7 linked regions of the Homo sapiens genome follow. The protein of the gene in region 6 purifies or fractionates together with the protein of the main gene of each other region. This does not show direct contact. Each region holds a gene or a part of one and is shown on either strand. Other genes may lie near its edges.

The links.
Region 1: the proteins of C1QTNF2 (region 6) and MCMBP purify together in Homo sapiens (affinity purification with mass spectrometry; 3 studies listed by BioGRID and IntAct, with this or other methods). This does not show direct contact.
Region 2: the proteins of C1QTNF2 (region 6) and DCAF6 purify together in Homo sapiens (affinity purification with mass spectrometry; 3 studies listed by BioGRID and IntAct, with this or other methods). This does not show direct contact.
Region 3: the proteins of C1QTNF2 (region 6) and P3H4 purify together in Homo sapiens (affinity purification with mass spectrometry; 3 studies listed by BioGRID and IntAct, with this or other methods). This does not show direct contact.
Region 4: the proteins of C1QTNF2 (region 6) and ARNT purify together in Homo sapiens (affinity purification with mass spectrometry; 3 studies listed by BioGRID and IntAct, with this or other methods). This does not show direct contact.
Region 5: the proteins of C1QTNF2 (region 6) and SZT2 purify together in Homo sapiens (affinity purification with mass spectrometry; 3 studies listed by BioGRID and IntAct, with this or other methods). This does not show direct contact.
Region 7: the proteins of C1QTNF2 (region 6) and P3H3 purify together in Homo sapiens (affinity purification with mass spectrometry; 3 studies listed by BioGRID and IntAct, with this or other methods). This does not show direct contact.

Annotation. Positions count from the first base shown.
Region 1 is NC_000010.11:119,841,617-119,846,103, reverse strand, and holds part of MCMBP (mini-chromosome maintenance complex-binding protein), read left to right. Parts: intron 1-2,677; coding exon 2,678-2,850; coding exon of another isoform or gene 2,851-2,856; intron 2,857-3,508; coding exon 3,509-3,632; intron 3,633-4,487. UniProt on the Homo sapiens protein: Associated component of the MCM complex that acts as a regulator of DNA replication.
Region 2 is NC_000001.11:168,005,451-168,009,937, reverse strand, and holds part of DCAF6 (DDB1- and CUL4-associated factor 6), read right to left. Parts: intron 1-4,487. UniProt on the Homo sapiens protein: Ligand-dependent coactivator of nuclear receptors. Enhance transcriptional activity of the nuclear receptors NR3C1 and AR. May function as a substrate receptor for CUL4-DDB1 E3 ubiquitin-protein ligase complex.
Region 3 is NC_000017.11:41,805,009-41,809,495, reverse strand, and holds part of P3H4 (endoplasmic reticulum protein SC65 precursor), read left to right. Parts: intron 1-1,491; coding exon 1,492-1,637; intron 1,638-2,616; coding exon 2,617-2,700; intron 2,701-4,487. UniProt on the Homo sapiens protein: Part of a complex composed of PLOD1, P3H3 and P3H4 that catalyzes hydroxylation of lysine residues in collagen alpha chains and is required for normal assembly and cross-linking of collagen fibrils.
Region 4 is NC_000001.11:150,834,692-150,839,178, forward strand, and holds part of ARNT (aryl hydrocarbon receptor nuclear translocator), read right to left. Parts: intron 1,803-4,487; coding exon 1,589-1,802; intron 1-1,588. UniProt on the Homo sapiens protein: Required for activity of the AHR. Upon ligand binding, AHR translocates into the nucleus, where it heterodimerizes with ARNT and induces transcription by binding to xenobiotic response elements (XRE).
Region 5 is NC_000001.11:43,447,912-43,451,822, forward strand, and holds part of SZT2 (KICSTOR complex protein SZT2), read left to right. Parts: coding exon 1-60; intron 61-167; coding exon 168-573; exon of another isoform or gene 574-700; coding exon 701-817; intron 818-2,191; coding exon 2,192-2,260; intron 2,261-2,425; coding exon 2,426-2,569; 3' UTR 2,570-3,107; coding exon of another isoform or gene 3,108-3,160; 3' UTR 3,161-3,326; coding exon of another isoform or gene 3,327-3,400; 3' UTR 3,401-3,498; coding exon of another isoform or gene 3,499-3,633; 3' UTR 3,634-3,736; coding exon of another isoform or gene 3,737-3,806; 3' UTR 3,807-3,886; coding exon of another isoform or gene 3,887-3,911. Other genes in the region: HYI (putative hydroxypyruvate isomerase), read right to left, coding at 3,327-3,400, 3,499-3,633, 3,737-3,806, 3,887-3,911.
Region 6 is NC_000005.10:160,350,120-160,354,292, reverse strand, and holds part of C1QTNF2 (complement C1q tumor necrosis factor-related protein 2 isoform 1 precursor), read left to right. Parts: intron 1-4,173. UniProt on the Homo sapiens protein: Involved in the regulation of lipid metabolism in adipose tissue and liver.
Region 7 is NC_000012.12:6,831,131-6,835,617, forward strand, and holds part of P3H3 (prolyl 3-hydroxylase 3 precursor), read left to right. Parts: intron 1-85; coding exon 86-222; intron 223-694; coding exon 695-784; intron 785-2,461; coding exon 2,462-2,514; intron 2,515-2,611; coding exon 2,612-2,679; intron 2,680-2,794; coding exon 2,795-2,919; intron 2,920-4,487. UniProt on the Homo sapiens protein: Part of a complex composed of PLOD1, P3H3 and P3H4 that catalyzes hydroxylation of lysine residues in collagen alpha chains and is required for normal assembly and cross-linkling of collagen fibrils.

The sequences.
Region 1 (4,487 bases), on a different chromosome or scaffold from region 6:
CTCGTTGGTACTGGATTAGATTTGCATCTAGGCCCTTAAAGTAGACAGAGCTAGGATACATGCAGCATATGGATACATATATACGCACCCACATTTAAATGCACACATACACACTCACATGCATGTTTTGTGTATTTCTAATGTCTGTGAAAAACCATGGGTTCATATTTCTGATTCCAGTTCAGCACAGCAGGAGTCACATGTTCTAGTTGTTCTCCTTTCTATATTTATGACTTCTTTTTCTAACAAATTTGATTCCCATTATTCACAATCTGTTGTTTCCCCATTTCTACCATATACAGAAGGGAATTTCAGAATTGGTAACCCATACCACTACAAAACAGAAACCTAGTAATTAGAGTTCAATACATTTCCAGTTCATTTTTATTTTAGAATGCAGCTGTGTAGTCAGAGCTATGTTCCACTTACTCAGGTAACTTTTCTTCCCCTTCAGTGTGATTTCATTATTTATTTTACTTAGAAAGATTCTCAGAGGTGTCATTCTCGGCTATCCCCATTCCTGCTGTCTGTTCCCACCCAGCCTCCTTAGGGAACCACAGTTTCTGGTTTATCCTTCCTGTATTTATTTTTTTACAAAAATATGAAGATACGTATACATTTTATTTCTACCTTTTTCTTCTATAAAAGGTAACATGGTATATATACTCTTACACTTTTTAATTTTTTTTATTAACAACATATCTTGGAAATCTAGACCTTCCTCATTCATTTTTGTTTTGTTTTGAGATTGCCAAAAGCAAGGGCTGATGTCCCTCATCTACACCAGAGTCCTCTTGTTGAATACCGGACATTAATCATCTTAGTTTCTGTGTAGGATGAACTTAACATTTTTCACAGTTAAAAAAAAATGGTACAAAACAAAAATTTTAAACAACTTTAAATAAGCTTAACCGTCCCTTAATAATAGTATATGAGATTGTTCATCTTGGCAATTTCTGATTGTGATGACTTTCCTGCTTTAGTTACTTCACTATTGATGTAGTTTAGTTTAGAGGTTGTATTAGGGGTCTCTAAAGGGTCAGAACTGATAGGATAGATGAATATATGAAGGGGAGTTTATTAGGAGAATGACTCACATGATCACAAGGTAAAATCCCACAATAGGCTGGGGAGCAAGGAAGCCAGCCTGAGTCCCAAAATCTCAAAAGTAGGGAAGCCACCAGTGTAGGCTTCAGTCCGTGGCTGAAGGCCTAAGAGCTCCTGGTGAACCACTGGTGTAGGTCCAAGAGTCCAAAAGCTGAAGAACTTGGAGTCTGATGTTTGAGGGCAGGAAGCATCCAGCATGAGAGAAAGGTGGAGGCGGAAGACTCAGCCAGTCTGCTCTTTACATGCCTGCCTTTATGCTGGCAGCTGATTAGATGCTGCCCACCCAGACTGAGGGTGGGTCTGCCTCTCCCAGCCCGCTGACTCAAATGTTAATCTCCTTTGGCAACACCCTCACAGACACATCCAGGAACAATAATTTTCATCCTTCAATCCAGTCAGATTGACAAAGTATTAACCATCACAGAGGTTAAGAGCACAGACAGGCAGGCAGCCTGGGTTGGAGTCCTGACTTGGCCACTTACTAGCTATGTCACCTTGGGCTTGGTTTCCTCATTGTAAATAAGGGTAGATGTGAGGTTTTGGTGAATTTGTACGTGTAAGGCATTGAACGTTGTCTGTCACATGGTACGTACTATGGAAAAGGTTATTATGCTTGTATTAAAAAATACAGGAGTATGAATTTATTACTTCAGTGTCTATAGATTCTATAAAGTCAAGATCTAAAAGATTAGCTATTTGTTTTGGTCGTCTCACAAATCTATCATCTGCAGATTTATTTAGCAAGTCTGAAAAATTCATACTTTCATTGCTTGTCTACTCAGTCTTCGAGGGATCATGTAAGAATTAAATTTAGGAAAAACAATTAGCAAGATAAGAGATGAATGGATTCTCCACACGCTGAATAATAGATACCAGATGGCTTTTGAGAAAAAGACCCCAGTTTTTGAGATCTGCTGTCAAGTATTCGATGTCCCGGCCAATAGTTCAAGGAGTACCTGTGTTTTGAAATAGCCTTATGAGTGACATCCTACATTCCATTTATTGAAGTGCTGAATAACAAATATTATTGTTTCTGGCCAGGCATGGTGGCTCACGCCTGTAATCCCAGCACTTTGAGAGGCCAAGGCAGGCAGATCACTTGAGGTCAGGAGTTCGAGACCAGCCTGGCCAACATAGTGAAACCCTGTCTCTACTAAAAATACAAAAATTAGCCAGGCATGGTGGTGTGCACCTGTAATCTCAGCTACTCAGGAGGCTGAGGCATGAGAATCGCTTGAACCCAGGAGGCAGAGGTTGCAATGAGCCAAGATCGCATCACTGCACTCCAGCCTGGGCAACACAGTGAGACTCCATCCAAAAAAAAAATAAAAATAAAAATACCGTTCTTGAAAAATTGAATAAATGCATTATTTCATGATATGTCTTAACAAGCCTGAAGTCTGTGTGATGTAACACTTTAGAATGAGAGGCCACTTTCTGTTCTTTAAGGAGATGTACAGGTGGAAATATTCTTGGCTTTAACTCTAATTTTGTTTTCCAAGATGCACATTATTTTTGCATCTGTGCAATTGATGTCTCTCTAAATTGAAACTTTATCACCTCTCCACAGGGATGCCTCTGCACTGCTGGATCCGATGGAGTGCACAGACACAGCAGAGGAGCAGAGAGTACACAGTCCTCCTGCTTCATTAGTGCCGAGAATTCATGTGATCTTAGCCCAGAAGTTGCAACACATCAACCCATTATTGCCTGCCTGCCTTAACAAAGAGGAGAGCAAAACCTGTAAGTGTAAGTGTTACAGCCTAGTCAACTATCGACTGTTAGCCTCAGTGTGTCCAGAGCTGCCTGTAACGTGCTCATAGTGGAATTGAGAGTCAGGTCTTCATTCCTCACAATAAGTGTTTTCAGTAATCTCTCTCTCGTTGCCCCATTTTTCTCTTACATTAATTCTCTTCACTGAAATGAGGACAAAAGAGTATACAAGGCTGGGTGCAGTGGCTCACGCCTGTAATCTTAGCACTTTAGGAGGCCAAGGTGGGTGGATCACCTGAGGTCAGGAGTTCGAGACTAGCCTGGCCAATATAGTGAAACCCTGGCTCTACTAAAAATACAAAATTAGCCAGGTGTGGTGGCGTGTGCCTGTAATCCCAGCTACTCGGGAGGCTGAGGCAGGAGAACTGGAGGCAGAGGTTGCGGTGAGCTGAGATGGCACCATTGCACTCCAGGCTAGGCAAAAAGAGCAAAACTTGGTCTCAAAAAAAAAAAAAAGGAGGATGCAAACTGCCTTATTTTTAAGATTAGCATCACTTACTGACGGATATGTTAAGCTTTACCTACTGTCGACTGAATTGTGCTTTGCTCACGTAGTTATTTTTTTACCTAAGACACTTGAGAGGAACTGGAGTGTGTGTCCTGACTCAGGTCTTCCTTTCTCCTTCAGTTGTTTCAAGTTTCATGTCCGAATTGTCTCCAGTCAGAGCAGAACTTCTTGGGTTCCTTACTCATGCCCTTCTGGGGGATAGTTTGGCTGCTGAATACCTTATATTACATCTCATCTCCACAGTGTAAGTGCTGTATCCTGGTGGGAATTAGGGGAGTTTGGTGTGTGTGGAAGTGGAAGAGCGGGAAGATTGCTGGTGTCATTTGTGTGTTTTCCTTATTGGGCTTCATCACATGGTTTTTATCTGTCCAGTGTTAACTGTTATACCAAATCACAGACAAATTCCTTTTCTCACAGTTCACATTTAGCATTTTGATTATGTCCCCTTAAATTTTAGAGCCAAAATCAGATAAAGCAGTGGTCCCCAACCTTTTAGGCACCAAGGACCCATTTCATGGAAGACCATTTTTCCATGGACCGGAGTGGGGATGGTTTCAGTATGAAACCGTTCCACCTCAGAACATCAGGCATTAGTTAGATTCTCATAGGGAACACACAGATGTGCAGTTCACAATAGGGTTCGCGCTCCTGTGAGAGTCTGATGCCACTGCTGATCTGACAGGAGGCGGAACTCAGGCGGTAATGCCCACTCATCCACCCCTCACCTCCTATGTTGTGGCCCGGTTCCTAACAGGCCATGAACCAGTACTGGTCCACGGCCTGGGCGTTGGGGACCCCTGAGATAAAGGACCTGGCTGATGAGTAAAATGAGCTGTTTTATCCCTTTTGCATTCTGAACGCTCTGTTTATACATCCCAAGGCGCCCACGTCATGTGCACGTTTAACGTGGACATTGACACTAGCACCGCATCCCTTGACTCCACTGTATTTCTTTGTTTCTCATTTTAAAACTAGTGTGGGCCTTTGACAAGTTCCAAGAACATAAGGAGGAAAATGCACATCATCTGTAATTTCACCACTTAGAACCTCCGTTAACCTTTAGGTACATGTTCATTGGTTTTTGTTTACATATGTATAC
Region 2 (4,487 bases), on a different chromosome or scaffold from region 6:
AGGGTGAATATTGTTGGGGAAAAAAGATGCTTACTCAGAGACAACAAGATAGACAATATCCTGTCTTCAAGAGAGCTTATCATAGTAAAAGAAAATTATAAATTTTTATAATTGCTTTTCACAAAATAAACAGGGTTATATAGAAGAGAATAAAATTTCAGCAAGAAGAAAAAGGAAAGAGGACTTTACCTAGGGTAGTTATGAAAGACTTGTCTTATATGGCATTTGAGCTGAGACTCAAGGAAAAGGAAGTTGGCCAAGTGATAAGCCAGGACAAGGGCTTCCCAAGCATACAGAGAATAACACTAAGAACAAAGTGTAAGAAGGAAAGAGGGAAAGAAAAGAAAAGACAGGAAAGAGAGAAAGATGGGAAAGGAGAAAAAGGAGAAAGAGGAGAAGGAAAGAAGGGATGGAGGAAAGAAGGAAGGAAGGAAGGGAGGGAAGAAGTGAAGGAAGGGAGGGAGGGAGGAAGGAAGAGAGAGAGACAGAAAGAAAGAAAGAGAGAGAGACAGAAAGAAACAAAAGAGAGAGAGAGAAAGAAAGAAAGAAAGGAAGGAAGGAAGGAAGGAAGGAAGGAAGGAAGGAAGGAAGGGAGGAAGGAAGGAAAGAAGAAGAGAAGAGAAGAGAAAGAAAAGAAAATGGCAGGGCACAGTGGCTCACGCCTGTAATCCCAGCACTTTGGGAGGCCGAGGAGGGCGGATCACAAGGTCAGGAGATTGAGACCATCGTGGCCAACACGGTGAAACCCTGTCTCTACTAAAAGTATAAAAAATTAGCCGGGCATGGTGGCAGGCGCCTGTAGTCCCAGCTACTTGGGAGGCTGAGGCAGGAGAATGGCGTGAACCCAGGAGGCAGAGCTTGCAGTGAGCCGAGATCACGCCACTGCACTCCAGCCTGGGCAACAGTGCAAGACTCTGTCTAAAAAGAAGAAAAAGAAAGAAAGGAAGGAAGGAGAAAAGAAAAGAAGGAAGAAAAGAAAGAAAAGAGAGAGAGAAAGAGAGAGAGAGAAAGCAAGCAAGTGGGAGGAAGGGAGGGAGGGAGGGGGGAGGGGAGGGGGTGGGGGCAGGGTGGAGGCGGGGTGGGGCGGGGGAGGGCAGGGCAGGGCAGGGCAGAATTTGGCACGGAAATTCTCTGATAACCGAAAGAAATCAGTAGTACATCTAGAGTGTAACAATCATCAAGTACTGAGAAAATTGAATGAGATGAGGCTAGAGAGACAGGGAAGGGCAGGCCATATAAATTCTTATACGTCCACAGTGAGGAGTTTGATTTTTTTTTCTTTTGTAGTTGTATTTCCAAATGCAATTAGGAACTTCTGAAGGGATTTAAACAGCAAAGTTATATAATCTGATTTAACATGTTAAAATACTCATTCTGGCTCCTGCATGGAGAATACATTATAATGGAACAACAGTAGGTACAGGCAGATTAATTAGGAGACAAGAAATGATGGTGAGATGAAAAGACCCAGGTTATAGTTTAGATACAGGAACAAAAGAACTTGCTGATGAGCTGGCATGGGACTTGAGGAAAAGGAAGGAATCAAGAAAAACTCACAGGTTATTCAAATAAGCAAATGGACCAAGAAGGAGCCAATTACGGAACAGGAAGGGTAGGAGGCTGCATTAAGTTTTAGTTTGAACATGTAGATTTATGACGTACAACAATAGGCCGGGTGCAGTGGCTCATGCCTGTAATCCCAGCATTTTGGGAGGCCGAGGCGGATGGACTGCTTGAGGTTAGGAGTTCAAGACCAGCCTGACCAACATGGGGAACCCCATCTCTACTAAAAATACAAAAATTTGCTGGGTGTGGTGGCAGGAACCTGTAATCCCAGCTACTTGGGAGGCTGAGGCAGGAGAATTGCTTGAACCCAGGAGGGGGAGGCTGCAGTGACCTGAGATTGTGCACTGCACTCCAGCCTGGGTGACAGAGTGAGACTGTCTTTAAAAAAAAAAAAAAAAAAAAAAAAAAAGATGTACAACAATAACAAAAACATACTGTCAAAATAGCAGTCAGACATCAGGCATAAGGGTCTGGAATTCAGGGTAGAAGATCAGATTGCTGATATATATATTTGTGAGTCATGAATTTACAGGAGATATTAAAAGCTATGAGGAACTGACACAATCACCCAGAGAAAGAGTGTATGTAAAGAGAAGAGAAGAGAGCCCAAACTAAGGGGTTTGATTATAATATTCAGAAGGAGATAGAACAAGAAACACGAACAACAGTTACTGAAAACCCACCAGAATTAATAAGAGTAAATAGGCAAATATGATATCATAGATACCAAGAAAGGAAAGTGTTTCAAGAAGGAGTGACAGCCTATGTTAAATGCAACCGGGTCGAAAAATCTAGTAAGGTACTAACAGAGAAATATCCTTTAAACTGGTGAATGTCACTAGTGACTTTGATTAAAAGTTTCAGAGGAAAAGGGGGTTGAAAAGCAGATGGGGGTTGGTTAATAAATAAATGAAGGATGGCAAGAAAATGGAGAGAGCATCTATCAACAACTCTTCTGAGGATTCTCATTACGAAAGCAGCAGAGAAATAAGGCAATAGCTGAAGGGGAATGTGAGATAATTAAGAGAAAATTTTTAAAGAAAGGAGATAATAAGAGCATGTTAAGGCCAAAAGAAACAATTTGGCAAAAAAAGGCAATGATAATGCAAGAGAAGGGGCGAAATCTTTGAGAAGCTGGAAAGGGATAGCAACTACATTGACTAGCTTTTGATAGGAGCTTTCTGCTTCTATCACAATGTGAGTACAGATGTTGGAAAGCTGGGAAATTATTGACAGTAGGAAAACGAGTACTTTTCATTGTGAATGAAAGGTTAGAATCTGGAAGTGGGGCGGGGATGAAGGGAAGTATTAAAGTTTGAGAGACATGAAAGTGTAAAATAGTCATTTTGTACAGCTGGAGAGCAACAGTGTGAGGCTGCTCTGATGCACAGTGTTGAGCACCCATTGAAATTTGTGGTCATAACTTTCTTCATTATCATTCAGTGATTCCACTGTAGACTAAGAGAAGGCAGACAATTAGGTTCAACCAGAGATGGAGCGTAGCAAATTTTCATATTCCCATTGTCCGTTTCTTTGATATCAGTAAAAATGAGGGAGGACATGTAAAGGGATAAACATTTACATAAAAAGGTATCCACAGCAAGGCAAGCATAGACAGAAGTATACTTTATCATTTTCTCTATCTCTATGCAGGGAAATAATAGAAATCATGGTCCTAAGCTGACATTTCCATCTACTACATTCACCCAATGGACAATTCCCAATATTCACAAACACATTTGGACTTAGGCTATGGCAAATGCAAAAGAGATTGGACAAAAAACAAAAACAGAAACAAATTAAGTCCTTACTCCTGAAACGTTGAACTCCAGAATAATGAAAAAGCTGTTATCAGAACAACTACAGTCATAACCTTCAGATGTTACATCTAACACCAAATCATTTTTCTCAATAGTGATAATGTCTTGATAACATGGAAATATTCTAATTATCTATAGCTTAGTCAACCAAAATTCTCTCAATAATCTCCCAGTTAAAAATATTTCCTTACTTCCTATAAATAATTTATGAGTAAAAGTACTGCATAATGTTTCAATAATCATCACATGACCACCAAAGATATTTTTTCTTCTTCAATAATTCAAATGATTGTCACATTTAATACTTACATTAAATATTGAAAGGAATTTAGCAATTTGAAATGCAGTAATTAAAATGCATTAGATAGCTTTAAAAAATAAAGTTCCAAATACTTTACTCATAAATATATTTAAGAAACAACTAGAATTAGTTGAGATTCAGTGGAAGCTGAATGTAAGCTAGAGTCTTCTTGCTAAGTTTTCCTAAAAACTTATAATTGATCAATATGTTCAAGAATATCACTTTAAAAATTCTTGCTTTTCCCAATTTTACCTGCTTTGAAAAACAAACTTTTAACTACTTCTGCTTTTAATTCCCAAATCTTCCAAAATATTTTATTTTTCCATAAATTAAAATGCTATGTCAACTGAGTGTGAAAACCTTGATTCTGTAGCTCAGCTTTAGCTTATTATTATGGATAAAATGTATACAGTGTTAACAGTTATGTAACTGACTCTGGCTTTTATTCCCATAGAAACTGAAAATGAATTACTAAAAGTGGTATATACTGATAAAAGAGTGCTTAAATTAAAACATCCCATATTTGGTAATCTGGCATCAGTTTCCAGAGATGTAAGAATAAAGTGACAGCTTGGCAGCTAAGCTGTTAGAAATTTTTTTATAGGTTTCAGCTTAGGCCTGCCAGCTATATTTCTAGTTGCTAATAATTCTGGCTCTATATTGAGTAAAATTCTTCCTTAGAAGAACCAAAGAAAACTATGAATAAATATCTTATTGGTTTTTATAATTACATGTATATAGTTTAAAGTACCGAGTAAACTGTAGATACATCTGCTGAAAATTACTATTATAAATACTAG
Region 3 (4,487 bases), on a different chromosome or scaffold from region 6:
TCAGGGAGAAGAAGAGGGTCTTTTGGGCAAATGACTAGACAACCAACAACTGCAGAGCACTTGACAGTTTATTTTTATTTTTGAAACGGAGTTTCACTCTTGCCCAGGCTAGAGTGCAGGGGCACGATCTCGGCTCACTGCAACCGCTGCCTCCCGGATTCAAGTGATTCTCTTAGCCTCCTGAGTAGCTGGGATTATAGGTGCCTGCCACCACACCCAGCTAGTTTTTGTATTTTTAGTAGAGACGGGGTTTCACCATGTTGGCCAGGCTGGTCTTGAACTCCTGACCTCAGGTGATCCACTGCCTCAGCCTCCCAAAGTGCTGGGATTATAGGCATGAGCCACCATGACCGGCCAACACTTGAGAGTTTATAAGTCACTTTATCTTATGTGGTCCTTTCACCAACACCATGCAGCTGGCATTACTGGACCGATTTTTCAGATGGGGAAACTGAGGCTTATAGGGCAAGGGGCTGTTGGTCTTATGACTAATAAAAAGTGGCACCAGGACTTGTGGCTCTCCTCACTGGAGAGATCCTGGCATCCACTGGGGCTGGAATGGACAGCCTCCAGTGTTCCTGCAGCTCGGAGATGCCAAGATTCAGACAGAGCCAGGAGTCAGAGCAGAGGGGCTGAGAACCCAGGGGCCAGGAGACCCTTCCTGGGTACACATAGCAGAGAGGCTAAGGGCCTCTAATTCACTAGAGCCATCATTCTCCAGCTGTGTGAGCTTGAGCAATTTATCTAACCTCTCTGTGACTCAGATTTCTTGACTGTAAAATGGGGATGACAGTAATAGGTAGGCATGGCTGGGCACAGTGGTTCACACTTGTAATCCCAGCACTTTGGGAGGCCCAGGCAGGCAGATGGCTTGAGCCCAGGAGTTCGAGACCAACCTGGGCAACATGACAAGACCCCGTGTCTACAAAAAATACAAAAAGTTAGCCAGGCATGGTGGCGCGTGCCTGTAGTCCCAGCTACTGGGGAGACTGAGGTGGGAGGATTGCTTGAGCCCAGGAGGCAGAGGCTGTAGTGAGCCGAGATCACACCACTGCACTCCAACCTGGGTGACAGAACAAGACCCTGTCTCAAAACAAACAAAAACATACAAAAAATTAGATGGGTGTGGTGGTGCCTGCTTGTAATCCCAGCTACTCAGGAGGCTGAGGTGAGAGGATCACCTAAGCCTGGGAGATCAAGCTTGAGGTGACCATAATTGCACCACTGCACTCTAGCCAGGGTGATAGAGTGAGACCCTGTTTCAAAAACAATAAAAAGACAATAACAGTGAGGCTTAGATGAGTTAGTCAGGGCCTGGCATAGGGTAAGTGCCCACTACATGCTAGCTGGCATTATGCTTGGGTGGGATAAGGAGCCCATTAGGTATTCTGGGAGGTGGCTGGGTAGCAGGGGTGCTGGACTGAACTGGAAGATGGAGTTGACTCTGAAGGGGAAGTGCCAGAGCAATTCCTCACCCCTGTCCTGCTGCAGTGAATGATGTGCGCCAGGCTGCCCGCAGCGCCGCCAGCTACATGCTCTTCGACCCCAAGGACAGCGTCATGCAGCAGAACCTGGTGTATTACCGGTTCCACCGGGCTCGCTGGGGCCTGGAAGAGGAGGACTTCCAGCCCCGGGAGGTGGGCACTGCTTTCTGGGGCACTTGCTGGATATGCACTTTGTAAAAAATGAACTCCTGGCGGCCGGGCGCGGTGGCTCATGCCTGTAATCCCAGCACTTTGGGAGGCTGAGGCGGGTGGATCACGAGGTCAGGAGATCAGGACCATCCTGGCTAACACGGTGAAACCCCGTCTCTACTGAAAAGAAAAAAAAATTAGCCAGGCATGGTGGTGGACGCCTGTAGTACCAACTACTCGGGAAGCTGAGGCAGGAGAATGGCGTGAACCTGGGAGGCAGAGCTTGCAGTGAGCGGAGATCGCGCCACTGCACTCCAGTCTGGGTGACAGAGCGAGACTCCGTCTCAAAAGAAAAATAAATAAATAAATAATAAAAAATAAACTCCTGGCTTCCATGGAAGGCAGGATGGGAAATGGAAAGAAAGAATATGAGTTGAGGTTAGAGTCCTGGCTTCAGAGCCCAGCCCCACTGCTGTGTGGTCCTGGGAAGACCATGGCCCTTTCCTAATCTATTGCCTCACCTGCAAAATGGCAGTGATACTGCCACCTCACCAGCAGTGTCCAGACGAGGGAGGTATGAAGGTACACATCCACTCCTACCTGCTCCCCTCCCTACCTTCATTACCCTCACTGCTGACCTTTGTCCCTCTTTCCCAGGAACACCCTAGGTAACCAATGGAGGAAATCTGTTGGAGTTGAGGGCCAGGCTGGCAAATATGGGGCACATGGTGCCACTCCTGCCTTCCTTGTCAGTGGCAGACATTGCTAATCGATTGAGGGACTCTTTGTCACCAAACTCTCAGAATCCTTAACCCAGTGTTCCAAGCAGCCACGATGATCTGATGAGCTTGTGAGCTGATACCTATTCTCTGATCCTTGAGCTAGAAGAGGGCCAGTGGGCCCAGATCCTAGGAGCCCTGGCTTCTTGCCATCTGGCAACAGGGTATGGCTCACCCCCCACCCCGTCCTTCCCTCCTTCCAGGAGGCCATGCTCTACCACAACCAGACCGCCGAGCTGCGGGAGCTGCTGGAGTTCACCCACATGTACCTGCAGTCAGATGATGAGGTGAGTGCCTCCTGCTTTCCAGGATTGGGCTGTGATGGGGACACCTTGGACCTTTTCCTGGGGCCACCAGTGTGCCAGAATTCAGCCCCAGCCCCTGGTGGTCAGCTGTCGTGAAGAAGAGAGGTTTGCCTGTTCCTTGTCTAGACTGTCCGTTCCTTCCCCAGCCTTAGTATTCTCATGTCCTCCTTTTGTACATGTCTCAATCCTGTTCCTCCCAGGCCCAGCTCACATGGTGCCTCCTCCAGGAAGCCCTTGCTGCATGCCCTGGCTCTTTGTTCTGGGCTAGCAGTGCCCACTCTGACCTGTGTGCCTCCCTGGCCACCTGTGGCCTGGACCTGGGTGATTGCAGCCCTCGTCCATCTCAGCCCTGGGCCCCTTCTCCAGCCAGTATCCAGGAGAACCGCACTGCAGGACACAGGGCCACATTATTCCCTGTTCTCCCACATCCTGCACAGAGCCTGGGCTCAGAAACTGAGTTTGAATGAACCAGTGAATGAATGAATGCAGGACCTCAGGACAGAAGGACCGTATTGTATTACATTGATTTATTTTATTTATTTATTTATTTTTTTTTTTTGAGATGGAGTCTCGCTCTGCCGCCCAGGCTGGAGTGCAGTGGTGTCATCTCAGCTCACTGAAACCTCTGCCTCCCGGGTTCACACGATGCTCCTGCCTCAGCCTCCGGAGTAGCTGGGATTACAGGCGTGCACCACCACGCCTGGCTAATTTTTGTATTTTTAGTAGAGACAGTGTTTCACCGTGTTGGTCAGGCTGGTCTCGACCTCGTGACCTCATGATCTATCTGCCTCGGTCTCCCAAAGTGCTGGGATTACAGGCGTGAGCAGCCGCACCCGGCCCTATTAACATTGATTTCAAGTGAGGGTTTGACAGCCTTAATTTCTCTGAGGTGTTGCTGCTCAGTGCTCATTTATGTATCCTCTCCTTTGTTCATGCCCCCACGCCCCCACCCATCCAACCCCAGAGGAGGAGGGCAGAATCTACACCGTCAGCACCCAGGATGAGGAACTAGCCAGACCTGGCTCCATTACTTACCAGTTGGGTGGCCTCCAAACAAGTGTCAGGCAACCTCTCAAGCTTCTGTTTCTTCATCCATTGAATGGGGAGAATCATGCCCATCTCACATTGTTGTGGTGAGAATAACACAAGATCTGGCCGGGTATGGTAGCTCATGCCTGTAATCCCAGCAATTTGGGAGGCCGAGGCAGAGGGATCACCTGAGATCAGGAGTTCAAGACGAGCCTGGCCAACATAGTGAAACCCTGTCTCTATTAAAAATACAAAAATTACTCAGGTGTGGTGGTGGGCACCTGTAATCCCAGCTACTGGGGAGGCTGAGGCAGGAGAATGGCTTGAACCAGAGGCAGAGGTTGCAGTGAGCCGAGATCGCGCCACTGTACTCCAGCCTGGGTGACAGATTGAGACTCTGTCTCGAAAAAAGAGAAAGAATTAAGTGAGATCAAGTATGTTTTTTTGTTTGTTTGTTTTTGAGACAGAGTCTCGCTCTGTCGCCCATGCTGGAGTGCAGTGGCGTGATCTCAGCTCACTGCAAGCTCCGCCTCCCAGGTTCTCACGCCATTCTCCTACCTCAGCCTCCCAAGTAGCTGGGACCACAGGCGCCTGCCACCACGCCCGGCTAATTTTTTTTGTATATTTAGTAGAGATGGGGTTTCACTATGTTACCCCGTATGGTCTCGATCTCCTGACCTTGTGATCCACCCACCTCGGCCTCCCAGAGTGCTGGGATTACAGGTGTGAGCCACCACACC
Region 4 (4,487 bases), on a different chromosome or scaffold from region 6:
GAGGGGGAGAGATACTGAAGGCAAAGATAAGTAAGCATCCTATTCATGCCCTTAATCTCCTTGCTTATAACAGAACTGACCAAGCAGGAGATGAATTTTTTTTCAAGCCTAAAATACTTCAATTATCATCAATGAATCTCACTCTTAAGTTCAAAGGCAGCATTGAAAATAACATTGTGCAAGGAAAAGTAGGAGTGGAAAGTAGTAGTAGAAAACAAGAGGCAAGGCTATATTCTCATAGCTGATTATCTGTATACACATACAGACATACATACAGAGTAAATGTCATTGGTTGAAAAACAAGTACTTTTCTGTAGTCCCAGCTAATCAGGAGGCTGAGGCAGGAGGACTGCTTGAGGGCAGGAGTTTGAGGCTGTAGTGTGCTATGACTGTGCCTGTGAAGAGTCACTGTACTCTAGCCTCAGCAATAAAGCAAGACCTTGTCTCAAAAAAAAAAAAAAGAATAAAAAGAAAAAATTTTAAAAAGAAAAAAACCAAGTAATTTTATATGTTATAGAAACATATAGATCTGTTTGTCTTCTTTATTATACAGAAACGAAGAACAACTTTTGGGGAAAAGGAAGAACTAGAAAAATGAAATCATAAAAACATAAAGGAGGGGAAAACTGGTCAAGTGTGGTGGCTCATGCCGATAATCCCAGCCCTTTGAGAAGCCAAGATGGGAGGAGGAATGCTGAAGGCCAGGAGTTTGAGACCAGTCTGGGCAACAGACAGAACCTGTCTCTACAAAAAATTTAAAAATTGGTCAAGTGTGGTGACATGAACTACTCCTAGCTACTCAAGAAGCTGTAAGCAGGCAGATTACTGAGCCCAGAAGAGTTCAAGATTACAGTAAGCTATGATGTGCCACCGTACTCCAGCCTAGGCAAGAGAGAGACCCTGTCTCTTTTTTGGGTGGGAAAAAAGGAGGAAAACTAAAGATCAACAACACTAATATGAGTATATTGAAATTTCTTGCATTTTAACTACCAGTTTTTTTATCTGCTTCCACTTTAAATTTTTTTCTAGAGTTGCTCAAGAATAGATATGACTTGTTTCCTCTAGCCAAACTCTGGCCAAAAGACTGAACATAATAAAATAGGGGAGAAAAAAAGAACAACAGTACAGATACAAACAACAACAACAACAACAACAGAAAACACCTTATACATTGACCAATAACCATATCTATAGAATAAAAAGCTGTTATCATTGAACCTAGCACAAAGCCAAGCACCAGGAGGTAGAAAAAATACCAGATAATTATCCATACAAATGAGATAAAAACATGGATAATTCTTTTAGAACGGAAAAAAAAAAGTATTGTAGGTTTGGCTTTTACTGTTCTATTTATACCAATATTAAGATAAATGTAAAATATTATCACCAATGAAATATTTTCTAAGGCTGAGCCACAAAGTAGATAATCTCATATGGATAAAAAGAACTGACTATATTCATTAAAGTAGAAAATTCTTGAAGCCTTGCCAGAGTCAACAAACCAATTTAACAGCTAAAACATCTCTTAAGTCTCAGGAAAAAAACAAGAAAGGACTTCTCATTCATTTCCCATACACATAACTCTCACCTGTCAGGGCATTTTCTGAAGTGGAAAGCTGCTCACGAAGTTTATCCACATCATCTGGGTGCACCTGATCATAGAGTGTGCTGCCAAACCATTCAGACTGTGGCTGGTTCAAAACAGGAGTCACGGAGTCAGACACATACACCACCCTGCCTGTCTCACATGAGACAATAAACAGAAAGCCATCTGCTGCCTCCAAGATCAAATGTTTCAGTTCCTGCGCAAGAAAAAGAAATAGAAGTTAATATTTTACTCTGAAAAAACAAGTATTTCTATTCACAGGAAGAAGTAAGACACTTCAGGCCACATGCATCTCTCCGTAAGCAACTGCTGGTTCACACCTGATCCACAGCCACAGGTTTCCACCCTAAATGTAGTTCATCGATAAGAAAGTTTTTTCTAATACATGTTTCCTCACTTTCTCTATGTCACTATCCACCTCTTCCTCTCTATCTCAGGATTCAAGAAGAATAAAAAGGCTTGGGCTAGGCACAGCGGCTCCCGCCGGTAATCCCAGCACTTTGGGAGGTCAAAGTGGGAGGGTCACTGAGTCCAGGAGTTCAAGACCAGCCTAGGCAATGGGGCGAAACTCCATCTTTACAAACAAACAAAACAAAACAAAACAAAAACAAAAACAAAACTAGCCAGGTGTGGTGGCACACGCCTGTAGTCCCAGCTACTCCGGAGGCTGAGGTGGGAGGATCACCTGAGCCTGGGAAGCAGAGGTTGCAGTGAGCCGAGATCATACCACCACACTCCAGCCTGAGCGACAGAGCAAGAGACCCTGTCTCAAAAAAAAAAAGGCTTACCATGAACAATAATTGACTTCTTAATTCCATCCTCTCTGGTCTCTTTTTAGGATCTTGCTTGACAAATATTCCCACTTTCTCTCTTTCCCTTCAGGCCTATAAAAATGATCAAGTTTTCTCAATTCTAGATAAATCTTCCCTCAGTTTGACCCACCTCATCTCTCTTTTTCAGCAGCAAGCTTATACTAAGAATAATGTTATATTCACTGGCTTTATCCTCTTACCTTTCAATTATTTCTCAATCCCACTTCACTCTCACTCTAAACTACTGTTTTCCTGTTTGGTTTGGTTTTTGTTCTGCCAGGAACAGCATACATATATTTTTAATGAGGTTACTAATGTCCTCCTAATTACCAATTCAAGTCCCTTTTCCTGGGTCTTCATCACTTTATTCAACCTCTCTGCAGAATGTGACAATGTCGTCCATCTTATCCTTTAAATTTTATTTTTCCCTACCTTCTTCTATGAGACTGTACTCCAATTTTTGCTTCCTCTTCTGTTTCAGACTTCCTTTCCTTTGTTCAAGTCTTAAATGTAGACATTTCCAAAGTTCATCTTAAGCCCTCTTTATTAATACCATACTTTCTTCCTGGGAAACCATATTCACTCTTCCCCACTACGAAATAATAACCAAGTCTATAGCCCTAGACATGACTAACGTTTTTTCCTGAGCTTTCAGCAGACTTGAATTTCAAGTATCTGTAAAATATTTATAAATATTCTACCAGCAACTCAACATCAACATCCCAAAACCTGAATCATTATTTCCCTCTTAAAAAAAAAAACCTGCCGTGCTCTTCCAATATTCTTAACAGCATCCTCCTAAGCTAGAAGCCTCAAAATCTAACTATTCTCTCACATTCCAGTGATAATTCAGTTTTATCGATTCTACTTTCCAATGCTTTGTCACTGTCCTAGTCATCTTTTACCAAAACTAATTAAGTAGTCGCCCTGCTTTCAATCAATCCTTAAAATGCTACCAGATCTAATACATTTTTTATGTCTCCCCACTGCATAAAAATTAAAATCTAAATTCTTTAACACCTAAACATTCCATCATTAGATCCCAGCCTACCTTCCTATTATCTACCAAAAACATGCTAAACCACTTGACTTTCTTTGCATAACCCAATTATTCCACACTTCTAGGTTTTTGCTCAAGTGCTTCCCAAAATCCACAACACTACTCCCCAACTCATTTTCCATATCTGCATTTTACAGGATTCATTACAGCACTTCTATTATAGAACTAGTTCTATGTTTAATTTATTTATTTACATGTCTGTTTCCACCAGAAAACCATTTGTCTCACCATTCTTTCTATTTCTCACAGCACAACACACCTGGTTTGCCCACAAAAGGTGCATAACTGGAGTCTGTTGAATACTTGCACATGTACTGTTAGAACATATTAACTATTTCAATGTATATAGCTACAAAGTATGTAGTTTTAAGTAGACCATCCTATTTGGAAAATTCTTATTCCATTTTCTCAAACTATATTCTCTCCTTCTTTCTAATCATTTGATTAAATTGGTGGCATTAAGGGAATACTTGATTGATACTGAAGTAAATTTTTTTCTTCCTTATACCTCCTACATTTTCCAAATTTTTCTGCAATGATCATGTTATTTTAATAACCAAAACAGAACATGGCTTCCTTACCCTCAGAAGTCTTCCCTAACCATCCTCACTCAAGTCTAGCCATTCTATTCACTTTAGCCATCCCTTCAGTATGTCTATCTAGTCCCACATAAAATTACTAATTAAAAAATACAATTCCTCTCTTTATGCATTTTCCTGTTATTTTCTGTGATATCCTGCCACTCACATACTTATATTCAGATGAAGTTCCTGAAAGGCAGAAAATGTTTACGCCTTCTTTTTTTCATAGTGATCACATGTAACAGAGCACATCCCTAAGCAACAATTAGACTCTCAGTTCTTCTATCACCAAAGGTGGGACAGATTCATTCTATTACTAAAACTAGAAGCTGCTTCAGGGATAAGAAATAGATTTCTTCCATCTTCTATAACCCTAAAGGCAAGAAAGAAAATTGGTTCCATGGACATAGTCATTTCCTCTGTGATTC
Region 5 (3,911 bases), on a different chromosome or scaffold from region 6:
TGTCTGTCACTGTGCTGCACCCTTTGAGGAGCAAGGAGAGGCTGAGCGGCACGTTCTGCGGTCAGCAGATCCCCTACCTTGAACATGCCCATTTCCCAGCCTGCCCCACCCTGCCCTGTGTGTCTCTTGCTACAACCACCACTCTCCTGCCCTGCTCCCCACCCCAGGCTACAGTTCTTCGTGGTGCTCACCAGCCAGCGAGAGCTCTTCCCCAGGCTCACTGCTGACATGCGCCGCTTCCGGAAGCCACCCAGACTGCCCCCTGAGCCAGAGGCTCCTGGGAGTTCAGCTGGCAGCCCTGGGGAGGCCTCAGGGCTTATTCTAGCGCCTGGACCGGCTCCTCTGTTCCCACCACTGGCTGCAGAGGTGGGCATGGCACGAGCACGGCTGGCTCAGCTGGTGCGGCTGGCTGGAGGGCACTGCCGTCGGGACACCCTTTGGAAGCGCCTCTTCTTGCTGGAGCCACCGGGGCCTGATCGACTGCGGCTAGGGGGGCGCCTGGCCCTGGCAGAGCTGGAGGAACTCCTAGAAGCAGTCCATGCCAAATCCATTGGGGACATCGACCCCCAGCTGGTAAGGAACTGTGGGCTCCCGAAAGAGCTGGGATAGGTGCCAGGAATTCCACTGGCAGCCAGGGCAGAGGGCACAGGAATCTGAGGTGACTGGCACAGAAGACTCAGGCCTGTGGCTCCTCCCTCAGGACTGCTTCCTATCCATGACGGTCTCCTGGTACCAGAGCCTGATCAAAGTTCTCCTAAGCCGCTTCCCCCAGAGCTGTCGCCATTTCCAAAGCCCAGACTTGGGAACTCAGTACCTGGTAAGTCCCCTTGAGCTTCCTCTGAAAAGGGAAACACAGCAGAAATCCTCACCAAACAGATGTGCCCCTCAGCCTGACCAAACAAGCTCTGCTCTGGAGGGAGGCCTAGACAGAACGGGACTACACAGATACATGTAAAACCCTTCCAGTACCGGGCATCGAGCTACAGCATGTGATTCTCTGAGCAGCTCTGCCCTCAAAGACTCACCAAGAATACAAGCCTTGGCTTGAGATCCTGAGGGCCAGGCTCTGGAACTGACAACCCAAGGAGCTGTCAGAACTTTGTCAGTAGGCTGGAGCCCCAGAAAGGACCCCTTGGACTTTGAAGCCTTGTTACTTAAAGTGTGGTCCACAGACCAGCAGCCGCAGCACCTGGGAGCTTGCTGAAATGCAGGCTCTCCGGCCACATTTCAGACTGTTGACTCGGGATCTGCAGGTTGACAGTCTCCCCAGGTGATTTGTGTGCACACTGAGGCGTGAAAGCACTGCTGTAAAGGACAGGTAGAGAGAACTGTGGTGGTGGACACGAGCACAGGGCATTAAGGAGCCCACAGAGATGGGCCCAGCCAGAGCTGAGGTTCAAGAGAGGAGGCATTACAAGAGAAGACTTCAAGTGAGAAAGTAGGAGGTGGAGCCAGGTGAGGGGTCCTGCAGCACAGTGCTTGTGCAGAGGATTCATTTCAGGGTGCAGGAAGGGTCTCCCAGAGAAGCCAAGGTCAGTTAGGATGAGGCTGCAGTAGTGTCGGCGGTTGTGAATGGAGGCAGGTGCTCCTGCGGGTGGTGGGAAGGCTGGAGCAGGAGTGGGTTTTGGGGAAGGGTGACAAGCCCAGCTTGGGGCAAGCTGAGTCTGGGGTCCATAGGCCCTTCACTGTCTGCAAGGTCTGTGGGCATCAGGGATTCGAGCTCAGGAGAGTCCTAGGCAGCAGCTCTGTGAACAGGCGGTAACTGAAGCCTTGGGAGAGCAAATCATCCCGGGATGGATCACCAAGCAGAGCGTTAGGGAGCAGATGGACATAAGGGGACGACAAGACAATCCCAGGGGTGGTCAGAGAGGAGTCCCAGGACAGGAGGCAAGGAGGTTGTGCCAGGGGTACAGCACTCTCTGTTGATTGGCTTCAGTGTGCCAGGCTCTGTGTGGGGCCTCCAGGATCAACTGTTACCCCTCATTCTGATGCAGCTCAGACAGGCTGACCAGCAAGCCAGCGAGGATGAGGACTGAGGCTCAATTTGGAGACACGGTCCTATGTGACCTCAGGGTGCAGGCGGGGTGAGGTGTGGAGATGGAAGTAGGCCTCTCCTCATCCTCCCTTCACCTCAGGATGCCCTGTGGGAGGGTCTGTAGGGTCTGTGTCCCCTCCTCATCTTTCACTGCAGGTTGTGCTGAATCAGAAGTTCACTGACTGCTTTGTGCTAGTGTTTCTGGACTCCCACTTAGGAAAGACGGTAAGAACGAGTGGGGGGCTTTGTGTCAGCCTCATGGGAGGCCGTACCCCAAATGCTCCACCTCGGAGCCTGCTGAGGTTGGGGTGCCCACCCTTTCTGAGCCCTGCCTCCTATCCCCACCCATGCCCTCCTCTCACCAGTGCATCCCCACCGTGTTCCCCACAGTCTCTGACAGTGGTTTTCCGAGAGCCCTTCCCAGTACAGCCCCAGGACAGCGAGAGCCCCCCTGCCCAACTGGTCTCCACCTACCACCACCTGGAGTCTGTCATCAACACAGCCTGTTTCACCCTCTGGACCCGCCTCCTCTGAGGGAGTGGACTGGACCACTGAATGTCACTGTTCCTTGAATCATGGGCCTACCAGATTGCCTGCCAGAGGCAGGACTGACCAGCCCTTCTGGGCCCCAGGGCAAGCCAGACACTGAGTGACACCAAAGGCTTTGTAACTATGTCTTGAGGGTCTGCTGCCCCAGCCTGGCAGCAGGAACCGCCCTCCCCAAACACCCACAGCCACTGACCCATCCAGGACTCCAGAGAGTCAGGTCAACCCCGAGGACCCCTTGGGCCCTTCTGGGGTACTCCTTTCGGCCCCCCTGGTAGAGTCTCGGGAGTTCACACAGGGTGGCAAACACCCCCTAGAGCTCCTCTGCCTGAATCCTGCCCCCTAGCCTTTGACCACTGTCAGCCACCTGTGTCCCTTGAGCCTTCGGGTCTTCACTTCCCACTTGGACATCACTGCTGGACATTCCCATCGAGATGACACCTGGGTTCCAATCCCAGCTCTGCCTTTGAAGCACTTGTGGCCACCGTCAAGTCCCTTTGCTCTCGGACCCTGGGTTTCTCATCCTTTAATGAGGTGGGTTCAGAAGCTCTCCCATCTTCACAGCAACCCTGGCACTGGCTTCTCAATGGGAGGGAAGCAGCAGAGAAACTGAAGTGTTAGACACTATGTGTCCCACCACCCCATTACAGAGACATATGACAATGTTCAGCAGGTCATCTTTAATGCAGAGGAGGAGATGGGATGTCACTCGCTGTCTGGAGGCACGTGGGTGGTGTGCGGGCCCTCACTGGCCAGCCTCTGGGTGGCCCCGCCTATCCCAGTATGAACGTAGCCAACTCAAGCCCTCTACTGTGTCTCCTGCAGGGAGAGGGAGGCCTCGGCACCTCAGCCCACAAGGAGAAAACAGCCCCTGTCCGGGTCCCTCCAGAGCTCCCTTCCCCAGGGCCACGCCTCACCTCGAGGCTGATACTCACAGCCCACGAAGCCTTTGTAGCCTTCATCTTCCAGCAGTTGAAACAGATAGGGGAAATTCAGCTCTCCGGGGCTGCTGGGCTCCCCTCGGCCTGGGACCTGTGCCACCTGCACATGCCCTGGGGACAGATGTGGACAAATGTGGGGTCCAGGCTCCTGCCAGGGCCTGAAGGACAGATGTGGGGATTGAAAGGGTGGGAGGGCAAAGGAAGGTCCTCTCACCAACAATGGGCAGGAACTCCCGGATGTTTCCTGTCAGGTTCCCATCCATGATCTGCCAGTGGAATATGTCCTAGGGAAGAGGATACTACATTCCGAGACCCCGCAGGCCCCGCCCTCCTTCCGATCTGCGAAGTACCCCCTTCCACTTACCATTTGTAATTGGAGGTTGGGTCTT
Region 6 (4,173 bases):
GAGCAGTTTATTCTGAAAGGAACATGGGTATTGAATTTTGTGTTCCTGCCCCCGGTGCACCTTTGGGTTGCTAAGTGACTTTGGAAAAGTCTCCCAAAATATTACTGAGAACTCTTGATAATTGCAAGTGACAGAAACTCAATTTATAGTCCCAAATGGAATGTATTAGCCCATAAAACTGAGACATCAGGCCAGGCGCGGTGGCTCACACCTGTAATCTCAGCACTTGGGAGGCCGAGGTGGACAGATCACTTGAGGCCAGGAGTTCAAGACTAGCCAGGCCAACATGGCAAAACCCCATCTCTACTAAAAATACAAAAAATTAGCCAGGTCTGGTGGTGTATGCCTGTAATCCCAGCTACTCTGGAGGCTGAGGTAGGAGAATTGCTTGAACCCAGGAGGCAGAGGTTGGAGTGAGTTGAGATCGTGCCACTGCACTCCAGCCTGGGAAACAGAGCAGGACAGTGTCTCAAAAAAAAAAAAAAAAAAAAAAAAAAAAAAAAAGCCTGAGAAGTCCAAGAGCCAAGCTCCAGGAATAGCTGAGTCCAGGAGCTCAAATATCATTGTCACGGCTCTGCTTCTCTCTGTGTTTGTTGTATCCTCACAAAGGCTAGAAGTTCTGAAATAGCACTGCTGGGCTCCGGCCCACATCTTCCTGGCTTCATCCACAGAGCAAATCTCAGAACAGCCAATTCTCCTTGGCCACATGCGTATCCTGGACCAATTCCCTTGACCAAGGAGGTGAGGTGCCTCCATTTGCAGGGCAGGCTCATGGACCCACCCCTGCGTGTGTGTGAGTGGGTGGTGGGGGCAGTCAGTCATTGTGACTGACAGCCCCGCTAGGACCGTATGAAATGAAATGGTGAAGGGCAACTCCCCAAAGGAAGGGATGCCAGGCAGACGGCGAGCAGAATGGATATACTCTACAGACCTTTCCGTTGTGACATTCCTTATATCTCCAAACTTTCACCCCAGCAACCAAGCACTTTTCAGTGTCAGCAGCATCCCTAAGCCTACATTTTAAGCAGTAGAGAAATATAATAATTTTTATTTGTATGGCATTTTAATATTGACAAAGCACTTTTGAACATGTTGCCCATCTGACCATCCATATCGTGTGCCGGAGGGATTCTTATTTTCCCCATGTTACAGATGAGGATACTGAGAGTCAGAGTGATTCAGTTGATAGCAAAATGTCATCCTCGCAAGAACGTGAACTTTGGAAACAAACCTGGACACTGATTTTGACAAACTACTTAACTTCTCTCCAAACCATGGTTTCCTCATCTCTAAAATATGGATAATAATAGCACCTGTCTCACAAGGTTGTGGTAAAGATGAAATAAAACAATGTATGAAGGACCAGTCTCAGCATAGACATACAATAAATGTTAGGCACCCTGTAATTGACTTATTGAGCTCACATAGCATGCAGATAGCTGACTCCAAATCCAGGTCTTTTCCTACCACACCAAACTAATTCCTTCAAAGGTACCTCCTCCCCAGGAGATTAGTATAAAAGTAACTATCATAGCTTTAACTGGGGTGGGTCTTCCAGCGTGCTGGGCACTGGTATCATGATATCCAATTTCCTGACCACGGCGGCAGACTCAGGTCTGGACATGTGCTCCAAGCAGGCCAGCTAGAGTTTTCCCTGAGATTTGCCTATGGATCCTGAGGGACAGAGTCTCTGCTGTTGACTTCCCCAAATAGATAAAGCTTACCAGGAAGTTCTACCATGTACTGGGGCTGCCTTTGGCCATCTGTTCTGCTGTGTGTTGAGTCTCTGCAGAGAAGGAAGCCACCACACCAAGGAAGGCAGTGTTGGGAGAGTCCCAGCGCATGTAACTCAAACAAAGCTTGTCACCCTGGGGCCAATTCAGGATAACATCCAACCACCCGCCATCACCACACATACAAATTCACCTCCAGAAAAGTCTTTCAAGAGTAAAGTCAGCTTTTCCCAAAGTCTCTCAAAAAAGGTAAAGAAGAGGAAAGCACATTATATAATACATGGTAGGACCTCCTGGTAAGCTTTTTTATCTATTTGTCTCCCGCCAAAAACCCCAAGTCAAAATGACTTGGAGGCTGCGTGGTGGCTCATGCCTGTAATTTCAGCAGTTTGGGAGGCCAAGGCAAGAGTACTGGGAGGCCAGGAGTTTGAGACCAGACTGGGCAACATAGGGAGACACCATTTCTACAAAAAATTTTAAAATTAACTAAGTGTGGTGGTGTGTGCCTGAAGTCCCAGCTACTCAGGAGGCTGAGGCAGGAAGATTACTCAAGCCCAAGAGTTTGAGGTTACAGTGAGCTATGATCGCGCCACTGCACTCCAGCCTGCGTAACAGCGTGAGACTCTATCTTTAAAAAAAAAAAAAAAAAGATTCTGTCTCTATTCCTCTTCTCTTGGCCCCTTTTCCCACCTTTTGTTTATTTTCATTTTTTCAAGAAATAGCTTTGTGACTTTTCTGAGTTTTATTTTTTCCCATTCTTTTTGTTTATTTTTAATTATATGAGTAATATACAAATACAGTCTCATTGTAATATATTCAAACAATACACATAAAGCAAAAGTCCTCCTTACTTACTACCCCTTCTCATCCTTCCCTCACCCTCCAGAGGTAACCACTATTAATTGGTTAGGTATGTATCTTTCCTGGCCTTTTTCTATATATTTACATATGTATTTAATAATACCAGGCATTGTCAGGCACTTAACATAAGCACTCTGTTCCTGAAAATCAAGTGTTCAGTAACAAAATGCAATTTGGAAACCTATTTCCGAATTATGTAAAATAGGAAAAATTCAGATGCATTACAGATTAACTCAAAACTCTAAAACACAGTGAAATGCCTACATACAAATGTATAAGAAACAAAGTAACTTGTTAGGATGTAAAATGCCTAAAACTTTACTTCCTTGACCCAGTTCATATGGTTCTAACAACCTTGTGTCGAGTGAACTCAAGTCATTATCCATATAGGTTTTGCTTAAAATGTTGTATTGAGTTGAGGGGACATAAACTAAATTGATTTTATGCAATCAGTAGCCAAAAATGTTGGATTGAGAGAAATGTGCATTTTATGAAACATTGGAGTATGAAACATCAAAAAGCCTTCTAAAGGAAAACACAACTGGGGGAATTGTTCTGCAGGGAATGCCAGCTAGTATTTAGGAATGTTTGCTATAGGCCAAGCACTCTTCTATGCGTTTAAATGGGTGTAGAAATATTTAGCACTGTGGGCCAGGTGTGGTGGCTCACGCCTGTAATCCCAGCACTTTGGGAGGCCGAGGTGGGCAGATCACGAGGTCAGGAGTTTAAGACCATCCTGGCTAACACGGTGAAACCCCATCTCTACTAAATATACAAAAAATTAGCCGGGCGTGGTGGCAGGTGCCTGTAGTCCCAGCTACTCAGGAGGCTGAGGCAGAAGAATGGTGTGAACCTGGGAGGCGGAGCTTGCAGTGAGCGGAGATCGCGCCACTGTGCTCCAGCCTGGGCGACAGAGCAAGATTCCGTCTCAAAAAAAAAAAAAAAAAATTGGCATTGTGGATTCCATTCCTTTTGTTTTTCTAATTTTTATTTTTTAGAGACAAGGTCTTACTCTGTTGCCCAGGCTGGAATGCAGTGACACAATCATAGCTCACTGTAACCTGGAACTCGTGGGCTCAAGGGATCCTGTCACCTCAGCCTCCCAAGTAGATGGGGCTAAAGGCATATGCCACCATGCCTGACTAATTTTTGTATTTTTTGTAGAGACTGTCTGGCTACATTGCCCAGGCTGGTCTCAAACTCCTGGCCTCAAGCAATCCTCCAGTCCCAGCTTCCCAAAGTGCTGGGATTATAGACGCGAGCCACCTTGCCCGGCCTGCCTTCCTTTTAACACAAAGGGTCTGGCCACCTGCTCTTTCCTCTTAGTGTATGTTAGAGAAGGTTTCATAGAGCACACGTAACTCTACTTTTTTTTTTAACTCCTGCATAGAAATCCACAGTATAGATGGACCGTAATGTTTTTTATCATTTGCCTTTGGATGGGCATTTAGTTGTTCCTATTTTTTGCTATTATAAGCAATGCTGCAATAAAATCCTTGTACACGTGGGCAGGGCTTATATGCACTAGGCAGGGATTTTACTAAGATCAACGTGTTGAAATCAAGAGGCTTTTTCCAGT
Region 7 (4,487 bases), on a different chromosome or scaffold from region 6:
CTTCTCCAGCACTGCCTCTGCCCCAAGGATCAATGTGCTCTAAGTATTCATCCCCCAACCCCTGACCTTGTCGCTCCCTCTCCAGTGGGCAATCTGTCCCAGGCTATAGAAAATGTCCTGAGTGTCCTGCTCTTCTACCCGGAGGATGAGGCTGCCAAGAGGGCTCTGAACCAGTACCAGGCCCAGCTGGGAGAGCCGAGACCTGGCCTCGGACCCAGAGAGGTAATCCCCTCTCCACGCTCACCTGGGAGGTAGCCCCAAATCAAACAAATAGACCTGAGAAGTAACCTGGACCCCCACCCCCCGCTGGCCTCTTACCCGAGCACTCTAGTCACCCAAAGGACTCCAAGTCCAGCATCTGACTTCCGTCTCCACTCCCTGCTCCCCACGGCAGCCTGGAGTTCCGATTCCAGCCCTCAGCCCCGTCTCTCTTGCCTTTACTTCACTCCTGCCTGCCACCAGCCCCCAAACTCATGCATACACACACCCACACACTCACACACACTCCCACCCCCTACACCCTTTCCAGTTTAAGTCCAGATGCTCTGAAGCTGCTGAGGGGGAACGTTGAACAGAGGAACCGGGGGGCATGGTGCCAGGTTCAAGGAGCATGGAGCACCCAGGCAGTGCCCTAGAGCCGGCGCTTCCCTGCCTTCCTCCAGCTACCCCTCACTGCTCATCATCTCACCCTCAGGACATCCAGCGCTTCATCCTCCGATCCCTGGGGGAGAAGAGGCAGCTCTACTATGCCATGGAGCACCTGGGGACCAGCTTCAAGGATCCTGTGAGTCACTCCACTTCTGCCCATCTCACCCCTCCGCACTCCCAGGAGGGATGGCACTTTGGTTTGCAACAGAGTTTTCCATTTTTCCACCATGAGGCTTGGAGAAGAGTCTGCCATCCCAGTTTTACAGGGACGGAGACAGTGTGCCTGTAGTTAGGGCGGCTTTGGGGTCACGCAGGCCTAAATGTCAGTCCTCCTCTGCCCCAAACATCTCTGAACTTCAACTTGCCTCTGCCTCAATTTCCTTACCTGTAAGTTGGAATAATCACATCTGTTTCACAGGGCTGTTGAAACCACATCATTTGATAACAAAATATAGAAAGCTCTGTTACTGCTGCTTTTATTTCTCTTCTTGTAGTTATGAGAGGAAACTGCGGGGCGGAGGTTATCTATGGCTAGGACTAGGGCATCAAGCAGGCGTTCTCAGTCTTCCTGGCGCTACTGATATTTTGGATCTGACATTTTGGATAATTCTTTGTTGGGGCAGAGGGCAGGGCCTGTCCTATGCCTTGGAGGGTGTTCAGCAGCTTCCCTGGTCTCTACCCAGTAGAGATCAATAGCACATTGACAGCCCCTGAGTCATGGCAATCAATGTTTCCACACTTTGCCTAATGACCCCTGGGGGCAGAAGTGTCCTGCTTGAGAACGACTGGCTAAATGTGTGAACTCTGAAGCTAGTTTTTTTTATTTTTATTTTTATTTTTGGAGACAGAGTCTCACTCTGTCACCCAGGCTGGAGGGCAATGGTGCGATCTTGGCTCACTGCAACCTCCACCTCCCAGGTTCAAGCGATTCTTCTGCCTCAGCCTCCTGAGTAGCTGGGATTACAGGTGCCCGCCATCTTGCCTGGCTAATTTTTGTATTTTTAGTAGAGATGGGGTTTCACCATGTTGGCCAGGCTGGTCTTGAACTCCTGACTTCAGGTGATCCACCCGCCTCGGACCCCCAAAGATGCTGGGATTACAGGCGTGAGCCACCGGAACCCGGCCTGCAGCTAGTTTAAAACCTAACGCTGCTTTGGGAGGCCGAGGCAGGTGGATCACCAGATCAGGAGTTCAAGACCAGCCTGGCCAACATAGTGAAACCCTGTCTCTACTAAAAATACAAAAAATTAGCTGGGCGTGGTGGCGGGCGCCTATAATCCCAGCTACCTGGGATGCTGAGGCAGGAGAATCGCTTGAACCCAGGAGGCGGAGGTTGCAGTGAGCTGAGATCGCGCCATAGCACTCCAGCCTGGGCGACAGTGTGAGACTCCGTCTCAAAAAAACAAAAAACAAAAAACAACAACAAAAAACAACTAACCCTGTCATTTGTAGCTGTGTGATCTTGAGCATGTTACTTTACTTCTCTGTGTCTCAGGGCTCTCAATTACAAAATGAGCACTTTAATATTCTGTTTCATGAGACTGTTGTGAACTTTAAAGGATAAATTCCATTTCCATGAATAAAGCTCTTAGAATAGCCCCTAGCAGATAGTAAGTGCTATATGAGTTATAGTTGTACTTGTTGTTACAGTTTGATCCACTGCCCAGGGCTCCTGACATTGAGTCCCGGGCTTTTCCTACCTCCGTCTTCCTCTCTGGAAACAGAAGAAACTTAATGAGATATTTCAGCTCTAATGTCAGGGATTCCAGGGGCTGACCTTGGTGGGTGATGATGCTTTTCTGGACTGTCGCAGGACCCCTGGACCCCTGCAGCTCTCATCCCTGAGGCACTTAGAGAAAAGCTCAGGTAGGATATGCCCCATGGTGGGAGGGGCTTGGCCCGAGCTGGGAGGCTGGGTCTGGACTGTCCTGGGCACCCACTGAGCGCATCTCTCACCCCTGAGAGAGGATCAAGAGAAGAGGCCTTGGGACCATGAGCCCGTGAAGCCAAAGCCCTTGACCTACTGGAAGGGTGAGTTCCTGGGAGGGAGAAGGCAGGAGCCTGGAGGGTCTGGGGGCTGCCAGCTACTGCTCTGCCTGCCCTTAGGGGATGCTCAGCCCCCTCTGCTCTGTCTTTTCCCTGGCAGATGTCCTTCTCCTGGAGGGTGTGACCTTGACCCAGGATTCCAGGCAGCTGAATGGGTCGGAGCGGGCGGTGTTGGATGGGCTGCTCACCCCAGCCGAGTGTGGGGTGCTGCTGCAGCTGGCTAAGGTAGGAAGACCTGCAAGCTCATCAGCTCGTTCAAGACTCTTGGATACAATCACCTGTTCCCTTGCTCTTGGCCTGCCCCCTTCATTCTGCCTGTCCTGATTATCCAACCGGGACTGTGCTTACCACTGCCTCTCAGCTGTGGATAAGTTCCGTCTCGTCTTAATTTAGCTGACATAGGTGGATGTTCTTTACAAATGAATTTTGCTAGAAATTGATAGGAAGAACAAAACAAAAAACATGAAGGCATAAAAATGGATGAGTGTGCAGGTAAGGATTGCTTGGTTAGCCAAGAGTTTAGTTACTGGCTTGGCTGATGGCTCAGCAGACACGCAGGCCTTTCTTTCCCTCCTAGTTTAGGTTGAATGACTCATACTCACCAGGTTGAGGCTACCATTTTATGAAGCTTCAACCCTTATCTTAGGTTAGTGCTCATTCAGTAATATACTCACTGAGTAGCTGCTATACACTAGAAACTGCTAGGTTCTAGGGAGAGGAAGATGATTATAGACTCTGCCCTTTGGGAGCTCAAGTGTAGAGGTGGAAACAGACAAGGAAATACATAATATAAGCAGGTGGTAAGTTTGGTAAAAGAAGTATGTTTTTGGGCTGGGTATGGTGGCTCATGCCTGTAATCCCAGCAATTTGGGAGGCCGAGGTGGGTGGATCACCTGAGGCTGGGAGTTCGAGACCAGCCTGACCAACATGGAGAAACCCTGTCTCTAATAAAAATACAAAAAAGTTAGCCAGGCGTGGTGGCACATGCCTGTAATCCCAGGTACTCGGGAGGCTGAGGCAGGAGAAGCGCCTGAACCCGGGAGGCGGAGGTTGTGGTGAGCTGATCTCGTGCCATTGCACTCCAGCGTGGGCAACAAGAGCGAAACTCCATCTCAAAAAAAAAAAAAAAAAGTATGTCAAATAGAAGCACTGAAATGCAGTTATAGAAGGCTTGCTGGAGAGGTGGTATTTGAGCTCAGTCTTAAGGATGAGTTAGTCAGGCGATTGGGGGTGGAATCAGTCTAAGAGGGAGAAGAGCATGGTGCATTCTGGGAACTGCAGTCAAGCACAGGGGTGAGAGCAGGGCCAGCTCCATAGTCATTACCTGTGTGATCTTGGGCAATTTATTTTAACATCTCTGAGCCTAATTTGCTCATCTATAAAATGAGGATAATAATAGTGTTTTTGTCATAGTGTCGTTGTGAGGATTAAATGAGTTAGCACATGATAAAGCTCTTAGAACACAGAATCATCACTGGCTGGGTGTGGTGGCTCATGCCTGTAATCCCAGCACTTTAGGAGGTCAAGGCAGGTGGATCACTTGAGGTCAGGAGTTCAAGACCAGCCTGGCCAACATGGTGAAACCCGGTCTTTACTAAAAATACAAAAAAATTAGTGGGCATTGTGGCAGGTGCCAGTAATCCCAACTACTGGGGAGGCTGAGGCAGGAGAATCGCTTGGACCCAGGAGGCGGAGGTCGCAGTGAGCCGAGATCGCACCATTGCAGTCCAGCCTGGGCAACAAGATCAAAACTCCGCCTCGAAAAATAAATTTTTTTAAATAATTAATTAATT